Linked DNA regions of Homo sapiens: region 2 is linked to region 1. A link means that fine-mapping ties the variant in region 1 to the expression of a gene that starts in the linked region. Tissue or cell type: substantia nigra. Region 1 holds a variant in brackets; the other region holds the start of a gene. All regions are shown on one strand. Distances are between the middles of the regions.

The links. PIP is the estimated chance that this variant, and not a neighbour inherited with it, causes the effect.
Region 2: OR2L13 starts here. The variant in region 1 is fine-mapped to the expression of OR2L13 in substantia nigra (GTEx, PIP above 0.99).

The regions. Positions count from the first base shown.
Region 1 is chr1:247,565,487-247,573,714 of GRCh38, forward strand. GCSAML (germinal center associated signaling and motility like) reads left to right here. Exons shown (of 5, transcript NM_145278.5): 4 at 445-473. It overlaps LOC102724446 (a long non-coding RNA gene), which reads right to left. Exons shown (of 3, transcript NR_188589.1): 3 at 153-465. Among named protein-coding and RNA genes, the nearest start is that of OR2G2, 19 kb to the right of the region's middle. The variant C/T (reference allele first, on the strand shown) is at 3,517.
Region 2 is chr1:248,092,004-248,100,231 of GRCh38, forward strand. It overlaps OR2L13 (olfactory receptor family 2 subfamily L member 13), which reads left to right and starts at 3,181. Exons shown (of 3, transcript NM_001395936.1): 1 at 3,181-3,251; 2 at 6,648-6,772; 3 at 7,355-8,228. The coding sequence starts at 7,373. LOC105373275 (a long non-coding RNA gene) reads right to left here and starts at 3,539. Exons shown (of 4, transcript XR_949369.3): 1 at 3,401-3,539.

The DNA.
Region 1 (8,228 bases):
GTACCTATCTCTATAGCAAGTGTTCATTTTAAAGAATTGTATGATTTTCCTGTGATAGTTACATAAAATTTATATCTTAAATTTGCAGCTATAATCATTCTTTCTTTATGCTTATCATATTGCATTGACATAGCACATTTATGAACATTTTATTACCAAATTTTGAAATCCATCTTATTCAGTACATTAATGTGCTTTATTTACAGAAAGAACATACTATTGATGCTATCTCAGAACACATGTTCTTTCTTGATTTTTTCACTCAGTCTTGAGAACTTCAGTTATAAGATGGGGCAATGTCATGTCAGATGTTTAGATAATAGGCCTCTGCAGTTTTATGACTTCTACATTCTGTTTTTTTCACCTTTTCCTTCAATCTGTGATGGGGCAAAAGTCTCACAGTGCTTTCCTTTCTTTCTTTTTTTTTTTTTTTTAATTCTCCAGGCCAAGAAGTTTCATCCACTTCTAATCAGGTAAGTAGAAAACAAAAAGCAAGACAAAAGAAAAACACAAACTTTTATTATGTTTGTCTGATAAATGCCAAAATACAGATGATTTATTCAAGAGTAGCATCTGTCTTCCTTTATTTGTAATTTCTAAATGTACTTTTAGAAATCATTCATATTTTAAATAATTTATATGGCAATTGTAATGCAGAAATGAAAGGAAATAAAAAACCAAAAAGTATTTCAACTGATCGAGATGAGTAGCAAGTTCTTACCGTTTTGGCCTCAATTCTGCTGAAGTCTAATTTTATTTATTTATTTATTTTTTGAGACAGAGTCACACTCTGTCATCCAGGCTGGGGTGCAGTGGCACGATCTCGGCTCACTGCAACCTCCACCTCCTGGGTTCAAGTGATTCTGGTGCCTCAGCCTCCCAGGTAGCTGGCTTTACAGGTGTGCACCACCACACCTGGCTAATTTTTTATTTTTAGTAGAGACAGGGTTTCACTATGTTGGCCAGGCTAGTCTCGAACTCCTGGCCTCAAGTGAATCCACTGGCCTCAGCCTCCCAAAGTGCAGGGGTAACAGGCATTAGTCACTGTGTCCAGCCTATTATTTTAATTTTCAAAGCTATTATAACAAAAACAGATGAAATTAAGTAAATTTATACTTAAAAACTGACCACCATAAAACATTAATTATTTTTAGCTTTCCACATTCCCTTTCAATCCTTATATCCAGGAATTAGCATTTGCATTGACAAGTATGGTGGAAACTATAACATATGGAAAAAAGTTTATTCCTTTTGATACTACCTCATAAAAATTTTGTTGATTTAATTAGTATATATTAATGTTTTTATTTTTTCTTTCCTTCACTGTCTATGCAATTGAAAATGTGCATAAACTCAATTTTTTCTTAGTATTTTATCTTATAAAAATTATAATGAATAATTACTTATTCATTACTTACTGAGGTCTGATTGTTGCAAACATTGCATCTCAGTGTGTGTGAACGAAAGTATAGAAGTGCTTTTCCCTGGATAGTTAGAGGCATAATAGCATCCTTCTTTTCTCTTTTATTATTCAAGTAAAATTAAAGCACAATTAGTAGAAGCTTGGAGTGCAGTTTATGCTGCTATAATGAGGTCTCTAAGACACCAGGGCTTGGAGCAAGGGCTTTTTTTTTTCTAGAAACATTTCTTACATTATATATATTTTATTATTTATTTATTTATTTATTTTTACTTTAAGTTCTGGGATACATGTGCTGAATGGGCAGGTCTGTTACATAGGAATACATGTGCCACGGTGCTTTGCTGAACCTATCAGCCCTTCATCTAGGGTTTAAACCCCCCATGCATTAGGTATTTGTTCTAATGCTCTCCCTCCCCTTGCCCCCCACACCCCAACAGGCCCGGGTGTGTGATGTTCCCCTCCCTGTGCCCATGTGTTCTCATTGTTCAACTTCCACTTATGAGTGGGAACATGCAGTGTGTGGTTTTCTGTTCCTGTGTTAGTTTGCTGAGAATGATGGTTTCCAGCTTCATCCATGTCCCTGCAAAGACCATAAACTTATTCTTTTTTATGGCTGCATAGTATTCCATGATGTATTTGTGGCACATTTTCTTTATCCAGTCTAACATTGATGGGCAGTTGAGTTGGTTCCAAGTCTTTGCTATTGTGAATAGTGCTGCAATAAAAATGCAAGTGCATGTGTCTTTATAGTAGAACGATTTATAATCCTTTGGGTATATACCCAGTAATGGGATTGCTGGGTCAAGTGGTATTTCTAGTTCTAGATCCTTGAGGAATTGCCACACTGTCTTCCTCAATGGTTGAACTAGTTTATACTCCCACCAACAGTGTAAAAGCGTTCCTATTTCTCCACATCCTCTCCAGCATCTGTTGTTTCCTGATTTTTAATGATCACCATTCTAACTGGCATGAGATGGTATCTCATTGTGGTTTTGATTTTCATTTCTCTAATGACTGGTGATGATTAGCTTTTTTTTCTTATGTTTTTTGGCTGCATAAATGTCTTCTTTTGAGAAGTGTCTGTTCATATCCTTCACCCACTTTTTGATGGGGTTGTTTTTTTCTTGTAAATTTGTTTAAGTTCTTTGTAGATTCTGGATATTAGCTCTTTGTCAGATGGATAGATTGCAAAATTTTTCTCCCATTCTGTAGATTGCCTGTTCACTCTGATGATAGTTCCTTTTGCCATGCAGAAGCCCTTTAGTTTAATTTGATCCCATTTGTCAATTTTGGCTTCTGTTGCAATTGCTTTTGGTGTTTTAGTCAAGAAGTCTTTGCCCATGCCTATGTCCTGAATGGTATTGCCCAAGTTTTCTTCTAGGGTTTTTATGGTTTTAGGTCCTACATTTAAATCTTTAATCCAACTTGAGTTAATTTTTGTATAAGGTGTAAGGAAGGGGTCCAGTTTCAGTTTTCTGCATATGGCTAGCCAGTTTTCCTAACATCATTTATTAAATAGTGAATCATTTCCCCATTGCTTGCTTTTCTCAGGTTTGTCAAAGATCAGATGGTTGTAGCTGTGTGGTGTCATTTCTGAGGCCTCTGTTCTGTTCCATTGGTCTATATATCTGTTTTGGTAGCAGTACCATGCTGTTTTGGTTACTGTAGCCTTGTAGTATAGTTTGAAGTCAGGTAGCGTGATGCCTCCAGCTTTGTTCTTTTTGCTTAGGATTGTCTTGGCTATATGGGCACTTTTTTGTTTCCATATGAAATTTAAAGAAGCTTTTTTTCTAATTATGTGAAGAAAGACAATGGTAGCTTGATGGGAATAGCATTGAATCTATAAATTACTTTGGGCAGTATGGCCATTTTCACAATATTGATTCTTCCTATCCATGAGCATGGAGTGTTTTTCCATTTGTTTGTGTCCTCTTTTATTTCCTTGAGCAGTGGTTTTTAGTTTCCTTGAAGAGGTGCTTTACGTCCCTTGTAAGTTGTATTCCTAGGTATTTTATTCTCTTTGTATTGTGAATACAAAGAGAATAAAACACAATTTGCAATTGTGAATGGGAGTCCACTCATGATTTGGCTCT[C/T]TTTGTCTGTTATTGGTGTAGAGGAATGCTTGTGAATTTTGCACATTGATTTTGTATCCTGAGACTTTGCTGAAGTTGCTTATTAGGTTAAGGAGTTTTTGGGCTGAGACGATGTGATTTTCTAAACATACAATCACGTCATCTGCAAACAGAGACAATGTGACTTTTTCTCTTCCTATTTGAATACCCTTTATTTCTTTCTCTTGCCTGATTGCCCTGGTCAGAACTCCCAATACTATGTTGAATAGGAGTGGAGAGAGAGGGCATACTTTTCTTGTGCTGGTTTTCAAAGGGAATGCTTCCAACTTTTGCCCATTCAGTATGATGTTGACTGTAGGTTTGCCATAAATAGCTCTTATTATTTTGAGATAGGTTTGATCAGTACCTAGTTTATTGAGTGTTCTTAGCATGAAGGGGTGTTAAATTTTATCGAAGGCCTTTTCTGCATCTATTGAGATATTCATGTGGTTTTTGTCATTGGTTCTTTCTGTTTAATAGATTACGTTTATTGATTTGTGTATGTTGAACCAGTCTTGCATCCCAGGGATGGAGCCGACTTGATCGTGGTGGATATGCTTTTTAATGTGCTGCTGGATTTGGTTTTCCAGTGTTTTATTGAGGATGTTCGCATTGATGTTCATCAGGGATATTGGCCTGAAATTTTCTATTTTTGTTTTGTCTCTGGCAAGTTTTCATATCAGGGTGATGCTGGCCTCATAAAATGAGTTAGGGAGGAGTCCCTATTCTTCTATTGTTTGGAATAGTTTGAGAAGGAATGGTACCAGCTCCTCTTTGTATCTCTGGTAGAATTCAGCTGTGAATCCATCTAGTCATGGGCTTTTTTTGGTTGGTAGGCTAATTAATTACTGCTTCAGTTTCAGAACTTGTTATTGGTCCATTCAGGGATTCAACTTCTTCCTGGTTTAGTCTTGGAAGGTGTGTGTGTCCAGGAATTTATCCATTTCTTCTAGATTTTCTAGTTTATTTGTGTAGAAATGTTTATAGTATTCTCTGATGGTAGTTTGTATTTCTGTGGAATCAGTGGTAGTCTCCCCTCTATTATTTTTTAGTGTGTCTATTTGATTCTTCTGTCTTTCTTCATTATTAGTCTGGCTAGTGGTCTATCTGTTTTGTTAATCTTTTCAAAAAAACCAGCTCCTGGATTTATTGATTTTTTGAAGGGTTTTTCATGTCTCTATCTCCTTCAGTTCTGCTCTGATCTTAGTTATTTCTTGTCTTCTGCTAGCTTTTGAATTTGTTTGCTGTTGCTTCTCTAGTTTTTTAAATTGTGATGTTAGGGTATTGATTTTAGATCTTTCCCGCTTTCTTCTGTTTGCATTTAGTGCTATAAATTTCCCTCTAAACACTGCTTTAGCTGTGTCCCAGAGGTTCTGGTTTGTTGTGTCTTTGTTCTCATTGGTTTCAAAGAACATCTTTATTTCTGCCTACATTTTATTATTTACCCAGTAGTCATTCAGGAGCAGGTTGTTCAGTTTCCATGTAGTTTTGCGGTTTTGAGTGAGTTTCTTAATCCTGAGTTCTAATTTGATTTGCACTGTGGTCTGAGAGACTTTTTGTTATGATTTCTGTTCTTTTGCATTTGCTGAGGAGTGTTTTACTTCCAAATATGTGGTTGATTTTAGGATAAGTGCTATTTCGTGCTGAGAAGAATATATATTTTGTTGATTTGGGGTGGAGAGATCTGTAGATGTTTATTTGGTCCACTTGGTCCAGAGCTGAGTTCAAGTCCTGAATATCCTTGTTAATCTTCTGTCTCGTTGATCTGTCTAATATTGACAGTGGGGTGTTAAAATCTCCCACTATTGTTGTGTTGGAGTCTGAGTCTCTTTTTAGGTCTCTAAAGACTTGCTTTATGAATCTGGGTGCTCCTGTATTCGGTGCATATATATTTAGGATAGTTAGCTCTTCTTGTTGCATTAATCCCTTTACCGTTATGTAATGGCCTTCTTTGTCTCTTTTGATCTTTGTTGGTTTAAAGTCTGTTTTATCAGATTGCACCACCTGCTCTTTTTTGCTTTCCATTTGCTTCGTAAATCTTCCTCCATCCCTTTATTTTGAGTGTATGTGTGTCTCTGCATGTGAGATGGGTCTCCTGAATACAGCACACTGATGGATCTTGAATCTTTATCCAATTTGCCAGTCTGTGTCTTTTAATTGGGCCATTTAGCCCATTTACATTTAAGTTTAATATTGTTATGTGTGAATTTGATCCTGTCCTTATGATGCTAGCTGGTTATTTTGCTCATTAGTTGAGCAGTTTCTTCATAGTGTCAATGGACTTTACATTTTGGTTTGTTTTTGCAGTGGGTGGTACTGGTTTTTCCTTTGTATATTTAGTGCTTCCTTCAGGAGTTCTTGTAAGGCAGGCCTCATGGTGACAAAATCCCTCAGTATTTCCTTCTCTGTAAAGGATTTTATTTCTCCTTCACTTATGAAGCTTAGTTTAGCTAGATATGAAATTCTGGGTTGAAAATTCTTGTCTTTAAGAATGTTGAATATTGGCCCCCACTCTCTTCTGGCTTGTAGGGTTTCTGCAGAGAGATCCGCCATTAGTCTGATGGGCTTCCCTTTGTGGGTAACCCAACCTTTCTTTCTGGTTGTCCTTAACATTTTTTCCTTCATTTCAACGTCGGTGAATCTGATGATTATGTGTCTTGGGGTTGCTCTTCTCAGGAGTATCTTTGTGATGTTCTCTGTACTTTCTGAATTACAATGTTGGCCTGTCTTGCCAGGTTGGGGAAATTCTCCTGGATAATATCCTGAAGTGTGTTTTCCAACTTGATTCCATTCTCCCCGTCACTTTCAGGTACACCAATCAAATGTAGGTTTGATCTTTGTTCACATAGTCCCATATTTCTTGGAGGCTTTGTTTGTTCCTTTTCATTTTTTTTTCTCTAACATTGTCTTCATGCTTTATTTCATTAAGTTGATCTTCTATGTCTGACATCCTTTCTTCTGCCCGATCAATTTGGCTATTGATACTTGTGTATGCTTCACGAAGTTTTCGTGCTATGTTTTTCAGCTCCATCAGGTCATTTATGTTTTTCTCTAATCTAGTTATTCTAGTTAGCAATTCCTGTAACCTTTTTTCAAGGTTCTTAGCTTCCTTGCATTGGCTTGGAACATGCTCCTTTAGATCGGAAGAGTTTATTACCCACCTTCTGAAGCCCACCTCTGTCAATTTGACATACTCATTTTCCGTCCAGTTTTGTTCCCTTGCTGGCGAGGAGTTGTGATCTTTTGGAGGAGAAGAGGCATTCTGGTATTTGGAATTTTCAGCCTTTTTGAGCTGCTTTTTCTTCATCTTTGTGGATTTATCTACCTTTGGTCTTTGCTCTTGGTGACCTTTGTATGGAGTTTTTGCGTGGTTGTCCTTTTTGTTGATGTTGACGCTATTGCTTTCTGTTTGTTAGTTTTCCTTCTAACAACCAGGCCCGTATTCTGCAGGTCTGCTGGAGTTTGCTGGGGATCCACTCCAGATTCTGTTTGCATGTGTATTACCAGTGGAGACTGCAGAACAGCAAAGATTGCTGCCTACTCCTTCCTCTGGAAGCTTTGTCCCAGCAGGGCACCTGCCAGATGCCAGCTGGAGCTCTCTTGTATGAGGTGTCTGTCGATCCCTGTTGGGAGGTGTTTCCTTGTCAGGAGGCATGAGGGTCAGCGACCCACTTGAGGAGGCCATCTTTCCCTTAGCAGTGCTTGAGCACTGTGCTGGGAGATCTGCTGCTCTCTTCAGAGCCAACAGGTAGGCAGGAATGTTTAAGTCCGTTGAAGCTGCACCCACAGCCTTTCCTTCTGTAAGCCCCTGACTGGGGCTGCTGCCTTTCTTTCAGAGATGCCCTGCACAGAGAGGAGAAATATAGAGAGGCAGTCTGGCCACAGTGGCTTTGTGGTGTTGGAGTGGGCTCAGTCCAGCCCAAATTCCCCTGCGGCTTTGTTTACACTGTGAGGGGAAAACTGCCTACTCAAGCCTCAGTAATGGCAGATGCCCCTTCCCCCACCAAGCTCGAATGTCCCAGGTCGACTTCAGACTGCTGTGCTGGCAGCAAGAATTTCAAGCCAGAGGATCTTAGCTTGCTGGGCTCCATGGTGGTGGGACCCACTGAGCAAGACCACTTGGCTCCCTGGCTTCAGCCCCTTTTCCAGGGGAGTAAACAGTTCTTTCTCATTGGTGTTCCAGGCACCACTGAGGTATGAAAAAAACTCCTGCAGCTAGCTTGGTGTCTGCTCAAATGGCCACTCAGTTTTGTGCTTGAAACCCAGTTTTATGCTTGAAACCCAGGGCCCTTGTGGTGTAGGCACCCAAAGGAATCTCCTGGTCTGTGGGTTGCAAAGACCGTGGGAAAAGTGTAGTGTCTGGGCTGGATAGCACTGTCCCTCAAGGTATGGTCCTTCATGGCTTCCCTTGGCTAAGGGAGGGAGTTCCCCAATCCCTTGCACTTCCTGTGTGAGGTGATGCCCCACCCTGCTTCTGTTCACCCTCTGTGGGCTACACTCACTGTCTAACCAGTCCCAATGAGATGAACTGGGTACCTCAGTTGGAAATGCAGAAATCACCCGCCTTCTCTATTGGTCTTGCTGGGAGCTGCAGACTGGAGCTGTTCCTATTCAGCTTTGTTCTTTTTGCTTAGGATTGTCTTGGCTAAACAGGCTCTTTTTTGGTTCCATATGGAATTTAAAGTAGTTTTTTC
Region 2 (8,228 bases), 530 kb after region 1:
CACCACCGTCATTAGCTGTATTCTTTTCATGGCCATAGTGAATAGGATTGAGCTCCTGATTTGGCTCTTACCTTGGCTGCTATTGGTGTATAGAAATGACACTGACTTTTGTACATTGATTTTGTATGCTGAAACTTTGCTGAAGTTATTTATCAAATCAGGGAGCTTTTGGACAGAGACTATGGGGTTTTCCAGATATAGAATGGTATCATCTATAAAGAGAGATATGTTGACTTCCTTCCTTCCTGTTTAAATGCTTTTCATTTTTCACTCTTGCCTAATTGCTCTGGCTAAGACTTCCTACATAATACATATTAATACTTAATGTGTATGTACCTAACAACATAATGTCAAAATAGATGAGGCAAAAACATATAGGACAACAAAAGAGAAATACATAAATCTGCAATTAAAGTTGGATATTCAGCACCCCTCTGTTAGTAACTGATACATCCAGAGGCAGGAAAACAGTAAGAATATAACTGAACAGCACCATCAACCAACTGGATCTATTTCACATCTGTGGACTACTCCATTCAACAACATTAGAATACACACTCATCAAAGTACACCACATTCTGGTCTATAAAACAGACTTTCACAAATTATACCTGCCTCACAGTCTTCTTAGAAGGGTTACACTGGTTAAACCAAAACTTTATTGTCACTAAGAAATTGTAAAGAATCTCTAAACTCATTATAAGCTCCCAGGCTTCATGGAGACACCATCACAGAGTAATTCATTACATCCTGGATTTTTTTTAATTGATCGCACCTACTGAAACCCCTTGTCTATAATATCCATCACCGCTCCAACTTGTTAATGAGTAACTTCCATCTCTGCAGAAAGAAAAAGATGCTCAATCTTTGGTCAGAGCCTCCAAGGAGTATGATTGAATCTTTGACAGCCATATTTTCCTCTAAAGAATTTATGTTTCTGTGCAGATGAAGATGGAAATGGAAATGTAAAAAGGAGATGCTGAGAGGGGCTGAGCCTTGTGCAAAAGTAGAGAGTGGGTTTAGGCAGGAGCACGGTCATTTCATACGCTGTCACAGGAAACAAGGCTGAGTATATGGTACAGAATGAGGGAGGCTGATACAGTTCATGGAAGAAAAGTTTGAAATCTGATTGTTTTATTAACAGGTTTGTTTATTTTTCCCAGAGGAGTCTAAGAGATGTGGAAGTGGGGTAAGGTTTGGGGAAAGCAGGAGGAGGCATGGATCACTACTTTTCAGAGAAAGTCTGCAGAGAACAAGAACATACTGTGACGTGGCAAAAGGGCCATGAGATTTGTATTCATAAATCTGAGATGTATTGTCATAAATTTGAGGTGAGATGCATCATCATATATTGGACTTTCCTCAAGTCACGTTTCATTGCTGTGTATGGATCTTACAGGGACGGTAACAGGCTGAGAATGAGTTTTACCTGGGTTTGAGTTTTGCACTGAGTTAAATGCAAGCAGCACCACATTGCAGCAGGGAAAAACATAGAAGTTACCAAAGACTAACAAGAGCAATAAAAAATCTGTATGTGATCATAACTGGTCCACTCTTCTTATTTAAAGCACTAGAATGGCTTTGTCCAGTTTCGTACTTCATCGTATTTGCATCCAGTATTTATTGAGTCTCATCTCATCATCTCCTAGGACAAAGGGTGCCAAGATAATTCAAGAATCCAGCATTACTTTAGTTCCGGTTCCATCCATGTTGTTGCAAATGAAAGGAATTCACTCTTATTTTTTTTTATGGTTGAATAGTGTTCTATGTATCTAGTAAATTTTCATTATCCATTATATTACATGAAATAAGCCAGGCACAGAAAGACAAACTTTGAGCATTCTTGCTCATATGTGGGAGCTAAAATTAAAAAATAATAAATATAGTAGAATGACTGTTACCAGAGGCTCGGCAGAGTAGAGTAGAGTGGGGAATAAACTGGAGATGATTAATGGGCTCAAAAATACAGTTAGGATGAATAAGACTTAGAATGTAGTAGCACAACAGGATGACTATAGTTAACAATAATTTATTGTATATTTCAAAATAACTAAAAGTGGAATTGGAACATTTCTAACAGAAAAAATTAATAAATGCTTGAGGTAATAGGTACCCCAAATACCCTTATTTGCTCATTACACATTGAATGCCTGTATTGAAACATCACATGTACCTCATGAATATATGCAACCATTAGATAATCATAATAATTCTAAAAAATTAAAGGAAAAAAACAAAGAACATGGATATTAATTTTATAGCATTATTTCTAATTTCTGACATAAAATATAGCAGTTAGTGCCTTCAAAGATAAAAAAAGAACAATATAACCCCAAATAAAGTGTTCTTTTCTAGTTAACCAATGTATGGATTAAAGAGGTTAAGAGATGCTACAGTTGATTGAGCCCTTCCTCTGCAACAGACACTATGTAAACATTTGGCATACATCATTCTATTTAATTATTAGAATGTCCCTCAAATTAGTCCAGTTGTAAAGATTAGTAACAGGCTGAAATCTTAAGTAATTTTCCCAACTCAGCTTCCTAATTAGTGGCATAGCTGTCAGACTAGAGTATTCTCTCTGACTCTAAATGCTCATTTTATCACATTGTCTCTAAGAGTCAGCTTTCACTTTAGTAGAATAGCTAAATGGATATATATTGTCATGTATCAATTATCTACCCCCACCTAACAAGTAGAAGGAAGTGTTTTATCCTAGTATAATTTAATTTAGTCACAATCATCAATCATTCCCCCTGGAAACTCACTAAAGAGTGGACAGGAAACTATCCTTGGGACTAGTTCTGCTATTACTGAGTCGAGTACTTGTAAGTGGTTCCTGCACTTTTTTAATCCGGAATTCTCTAACTTACATGATGACAGAATTTCCATAAACATAATTTAACATCTTCTATAGCTCTGAAATCATGTACTGGAATATTAAATACACCCCTCTTTAGTCTGATTCTGGGTAGCAGCTGAATGCAGCAAAGTTGATTGGGTTGGTTGATTTGCTTTAAGTTCAGAATTTGAGTTCATCCCCAAATCAGCAAAGTCAAGTGAAGTGACCAAGGTTTTGGCCCCCGTGGACTTGGACACTGGAGATCAATTAGAGGAGAAAGAGGAATATCTAAGGGTTGGTGACTTAAGGTTCTGTGTGTAAAATATAGCCATTCATCCTTCTGTCTTCCAATGGTGGAACCTGAGAGACTTCAGTGTAAAATGCCTTATTCTGTTCTCACTGAAACAAGGTAAGAGGAAAGGAAGAGACTTTATCTAAACACTGCATATGCAAACAGGATAATATTTCACAAGAGCTGGTGAAGTTGTTTTCTGATTTCACCATAAAGACAATGACTAGCTGTGGGAGCTGTAAGGAATGAATATTATAAAGTGTTACCTGGTGTTTCTTCCTCATGAATTTTGGCAGATAAAGAAGAGATTCTCACTTCAGAAAGAGTTTTGGTTTAATGCAGAGCCTATTGATCAGTGATATAATGTTATTGATAGCCTGATATACTATCAGAACATAGTTTGATGCTTACATGTTTTAAATAATTATATGGAATGTTTGCAGATTATGATGTCACTGTAAAGCTGCTGCTTTTTTTTTTTTTTTTTGAGATGGAGTCTCACTATGTCACCCAGGCTGGAGTGCAGGGTCACGATCTCAGCTCACTGCAACTTCTGCCTCCCAGGTTCAAGTGATTCTTCTGCCTCAGCCTCCCGAGTGGATGGGATCACAGGCGCATGCCACCACGCCTGGCTAATTTTTGTGTTTTTAGTAGAGATGGGGTGTCACCATATTGGTCAGGCTGGTCCCGAACTCCTGACCTCGTGATCCGCCCGCCTTGGCCTCCCAAAGTGCTGGGCTTACAGACCTGAGCCACTGCGCCTGGCCATAAAACTGCTTTTTATACCACTATATAAACTGAAGAACTTCGGGCAAAGTGAGTCATAGTAATATAACTGAATTGAGTTGATTTGGGTCGGCTTTATCCTAGAAAGCTTTTTTGGAAATGTTTTCCTATCATCAGGAAACTCTCTGCTGCACAGGGAATAGACAGTTCCATAACAAATTGAAAAAGAAGGCTGGGCACCCAGGTGGCTCATGCCTGTAATCCCAGCACTTTGGGAGGCCGAGGTGGGCAGATCACGAGGTCAGGAGATCGAGACCATCCTGGCTAACACAGTGAAACCCGGTCTCTACTGAAAATACAAAAATAAAAATTAGCCGGGCGTGGTGGTGGGCGCCTGTAGTCCCAGCTACTGGGGAGGCTGAGGCAGGAGAAGGGCGTGAACCCGGGAGGCGGAGCTTGCAGTGAGCCAAGATCAGGCCACTGCACTCCAGCCTGGGCGACACAGTGAGACTCTGTCTCAAAAAAAAAAAAAATGAAAACCAAGAGTGAACTAAAAATGTAAAAAAAGGTAACATGAACTTGTTAGAGTTGCACTATGTGCAGCTCTCAAACAATGTGACATTAATAAAAACATTTTCTCAGGGCGTGAGGGCTCTCCATGGTTAACACAGGGAATGGGCAAAGGACAGTGACAATTACTAAGGACCTACTATGTGCTGAACACACAGAACTGTGAATTCTCTTTATAGTTGTCCTATACGTTGTTGAGATTGAGGGAGCTGAGTCTATGACTATTTGCTATTGGTCTCCTGCTGATTGTTTAAAAGAGTTTTAAGAAGCATTCACTAATTGTAATTTTGCAAAATAAATTCAGGACCCTACACTTGCTACACTTACATTGTTAGTTTCTGTGAAATGAGGTGTTTTTTAACTCTATAAATTTCAGCAACGTATCTTTTAGAATGAGAAAGAAAATAAACTTTTTATCTGAGGAATAAGTAGCCCCCTTTAAATTATCAGGCCCAGCAAGATTGAAATGTGGCCGCAGTCACATCTCACTCTTTCTTGAGCTAGGTAATCATCTCTTGAATCTACGTGCTATGGGGGCTCTGGACTGACTTGTGGCAACTAACCATGAATTAACCTATCAATCCCCTAAACCACATATCCTATAGTTAAATAATGCATAACCAATCACTGATCAATGTTGTTTCTGAAACCAGTGAGACTTGCTGATAAATAACTTTAGAATTTGTCTCCACTCCTGATTCCTCCCTTTCTTTACCTTAAAAACTTGGGTCTCTTCTTGTTCTCCAGGTTACTTGCCACAGAAGTGTTTCTGGGCTGCAGCCCTCAACCTTGGCCCAAATAAACTTTCTGTATTAATTTTGCCTTAGTGTCGTTCTTTAAGTCAACAAGGATGGCCAAGGCAGTCACTAATCTCACACTCACCTGATAGCCACAGGAACAACATTTTCCCAGCTATAAGGTAACCGACAGAATGATGCTTCATGTAATTCTGGTGCATGAAATAAGGTCCCATGTCTAACAAGGAAAGCTGCTGGACATCAATGGAAATAGATCCTAAACTCAAACTCCAATATCCCATGACCTAAAATCTCCAAGTCCCAGATTCACAGGATCCTAAAAGTAACTATTCTCTTCCATTGCCTAACAACATGCCACTTTTCCATTTTTGGAAACAAAATCATTATTGTAGTAACTGCCATAAAACAATCTTTATAATACTCTGAGCTATAGTCTATGCAACAAAGAATCAAAATGTCTCTCTTCAAAACAACTCCAGGATGGAACACATAAACCTACACCCAAGTCAGCTTGTTCAGGGCTCGGTATTGGATACACCTCATGGGATCATGCTGGCAGCTTTCTTCCCCTGGATTTAAACCTGGATTAAACAAAGGAATTCAGAAAGCACTACAAAAGGCTTTTCCAATTTCCAGGACATGTTGGGCATCCCCTAAGGCCTGGGCACATCAGGACAGTTGGTCGCCCACTTGGGGATGGGACAGCACCTGATGAATCATTCTATCCCCACTGCCTCACTCAGTGACTACTGCATCAAAGGCTGTCAACATGTTAATCTGATAAAATTAATCAAATATTTGCTTGGAACTAAATTACTAGGATAGTTCTTACTGATAGAATGAAGCCACATGAGTTACAAAATCAATCTTTATCATACATACCCTGGAAATTAGAAAAGTCGTTTGGAATACTTTTTGAATTCCTTTGTTTAATCCAATGATCTCTCTGCTTTTTTATTTTTCTATAGAATCGTAATCACTACATAACATCACTGTATGTTTGAGTTTGTTGGTCTATTGTTTGTATAATTATCTCAATTTTAATTACATATTCTAAAATCCTTTGTGTTTCATCACCAAAGCACATCAGTAGCTAGCAGCACTGTCATAAAACATAAATTCAGTGAACACTATTTGAGGAAATGAATGTATCATAATGATGGTTTTCATGTTTTTTTCTGATCAGTTTTTATTTCTAAAGCACTATAAGAAGCAGAGAGTGCCTGTGATCCCATTTGGCATCCAAGTCCAATGCTACTGTGCACCTGTCATGTTCCCAACTTTTCATTGTTAGTGTTTATTCCTTAGACAGCTATAGAAATGAATTTCCATTTTTTTTCCTGTGGCAGGCTCTCTTTCACAATTGTATTCATGCTACCCAAGGTTATATGAACTAACAGTTGAGTTTAAGTTCCTAAATGTGAATAATTGCAACAAACTATGATTTGCTTTTGAACAGCAAAAGTTGAAAAATCAGTAACCCAAGATGACTAACCAAATCAATATGCTGGGCAGGATGAGACATCAGTGTCTGCCTCAGACAGAAGAGCACACACAAAACATGACCTCTCACTCCAAGCCCAGGTAAAGGAAGAAGTCACACAGATGTTAGAAATATAGTTTACGAATACCTGGGAAACTGCATGAAGAAAAAAACAAACTGCCAGATTTGGGGTGGTGTAAAGAGAAAAAGAGAGATTCTAAAAGTCATAAATAAAAATTCCCAAGGAAAAGCCTAGGCATAAAAAGCTAGACAAACTTTCCAGGGAGGGAAAATTATTTATTTTTGTTTGCTTGATTTCTTTATTCTCAATTATTAACATTTAATTGTGTTGTTCTATCTAATTAAATTGGAAGACATGCTTAAGCCATAAATTACAATTGTTCTACTGCTCACACTGGCTTTTCCAGTTGAATAGATTTGTAGCTGCTTGACTCTGCTGTCATCTACAGTAATGAAAATCAAACTATAAGAACAGAAAGTGAATATCCTCTCTAATCTCCATATGCTTCAGATATAGAAATTGATTAAAAAAAACCTGCAGTGTTAGTGGAGAAACAACTCATTCTAAACAAACATTGATAAAGTCAGTTCCTTTTTGTTTTTCTATTGTGTTTTATTTCATGTTTTGTGCTTTGCTTTTGTTTCTATTTCTCTTTCAACAGTTACAGCAGAAAGTTTTCATGGAGAAATGGAATCACACTTCAAATGATTTCATTTTGTTGGGTCTGCTTCCCCCAAATCAAACTGGAATATTTCTCTTGTGCCTTATCATCCTCATATTCTTTCTGGCCTCGGTGGGTAACTCGGCCATGATTCACCTCATCCACGTGGATCCTCGTCTCCACACACCGATGTACTTTCTTCTCAGCCAGCTCTCCCTTATGGACCTGATGTACATCTCCACCACCGTCCCCAAGATGGCGTACAACTTCCTGTCCGGCCAGAAAGGCATCTCCTTCCTGGGATGTGGTGTGCAAAGCTTCTTCTTCCTGACCATGGCGTGTTCTGAAGGCTTACTCCTGACCTCCATGGCCTACGACCGTTATTTGGCCATCTGCCACTCTCTCTATTATCCTATCCGCATGAGTAAAATGATGTGTGTGAAGATGATTGGAGGCTCTTGGACACTGGGGTCCATCAACTCCTTGGCACACACAGTCTTTGCCCTTCATATTCCCTACTGCAGGTCTAGGGCTATTGACCATTTCTTCTGCGATGTCCCAGCCATGTTGCTTCTTGCCTGTACAGATACTTGGGTCTATGAATATATGGTTTTTGTAAGTACAAGCCTCTTTCTCCTTTTCCCTTTCATTGGCATCACTTCTTCCTGTGGCCGAGTCCTATTTGCTGTCTATCATATGCACTCAAAGGAGGGGAGAAAAAAGGCCTTCACCACCATTTCAACACATTTAACTGTAGTGATCTTTTACTATGCACCTTTTGTCTACACCTATCTTCGGCCCAGGAATCTCCGCTCACCAGCTGAAGACAAGATCCTGGCAGTCTTCTACACCATCCTTACCCCCATGCTCAATC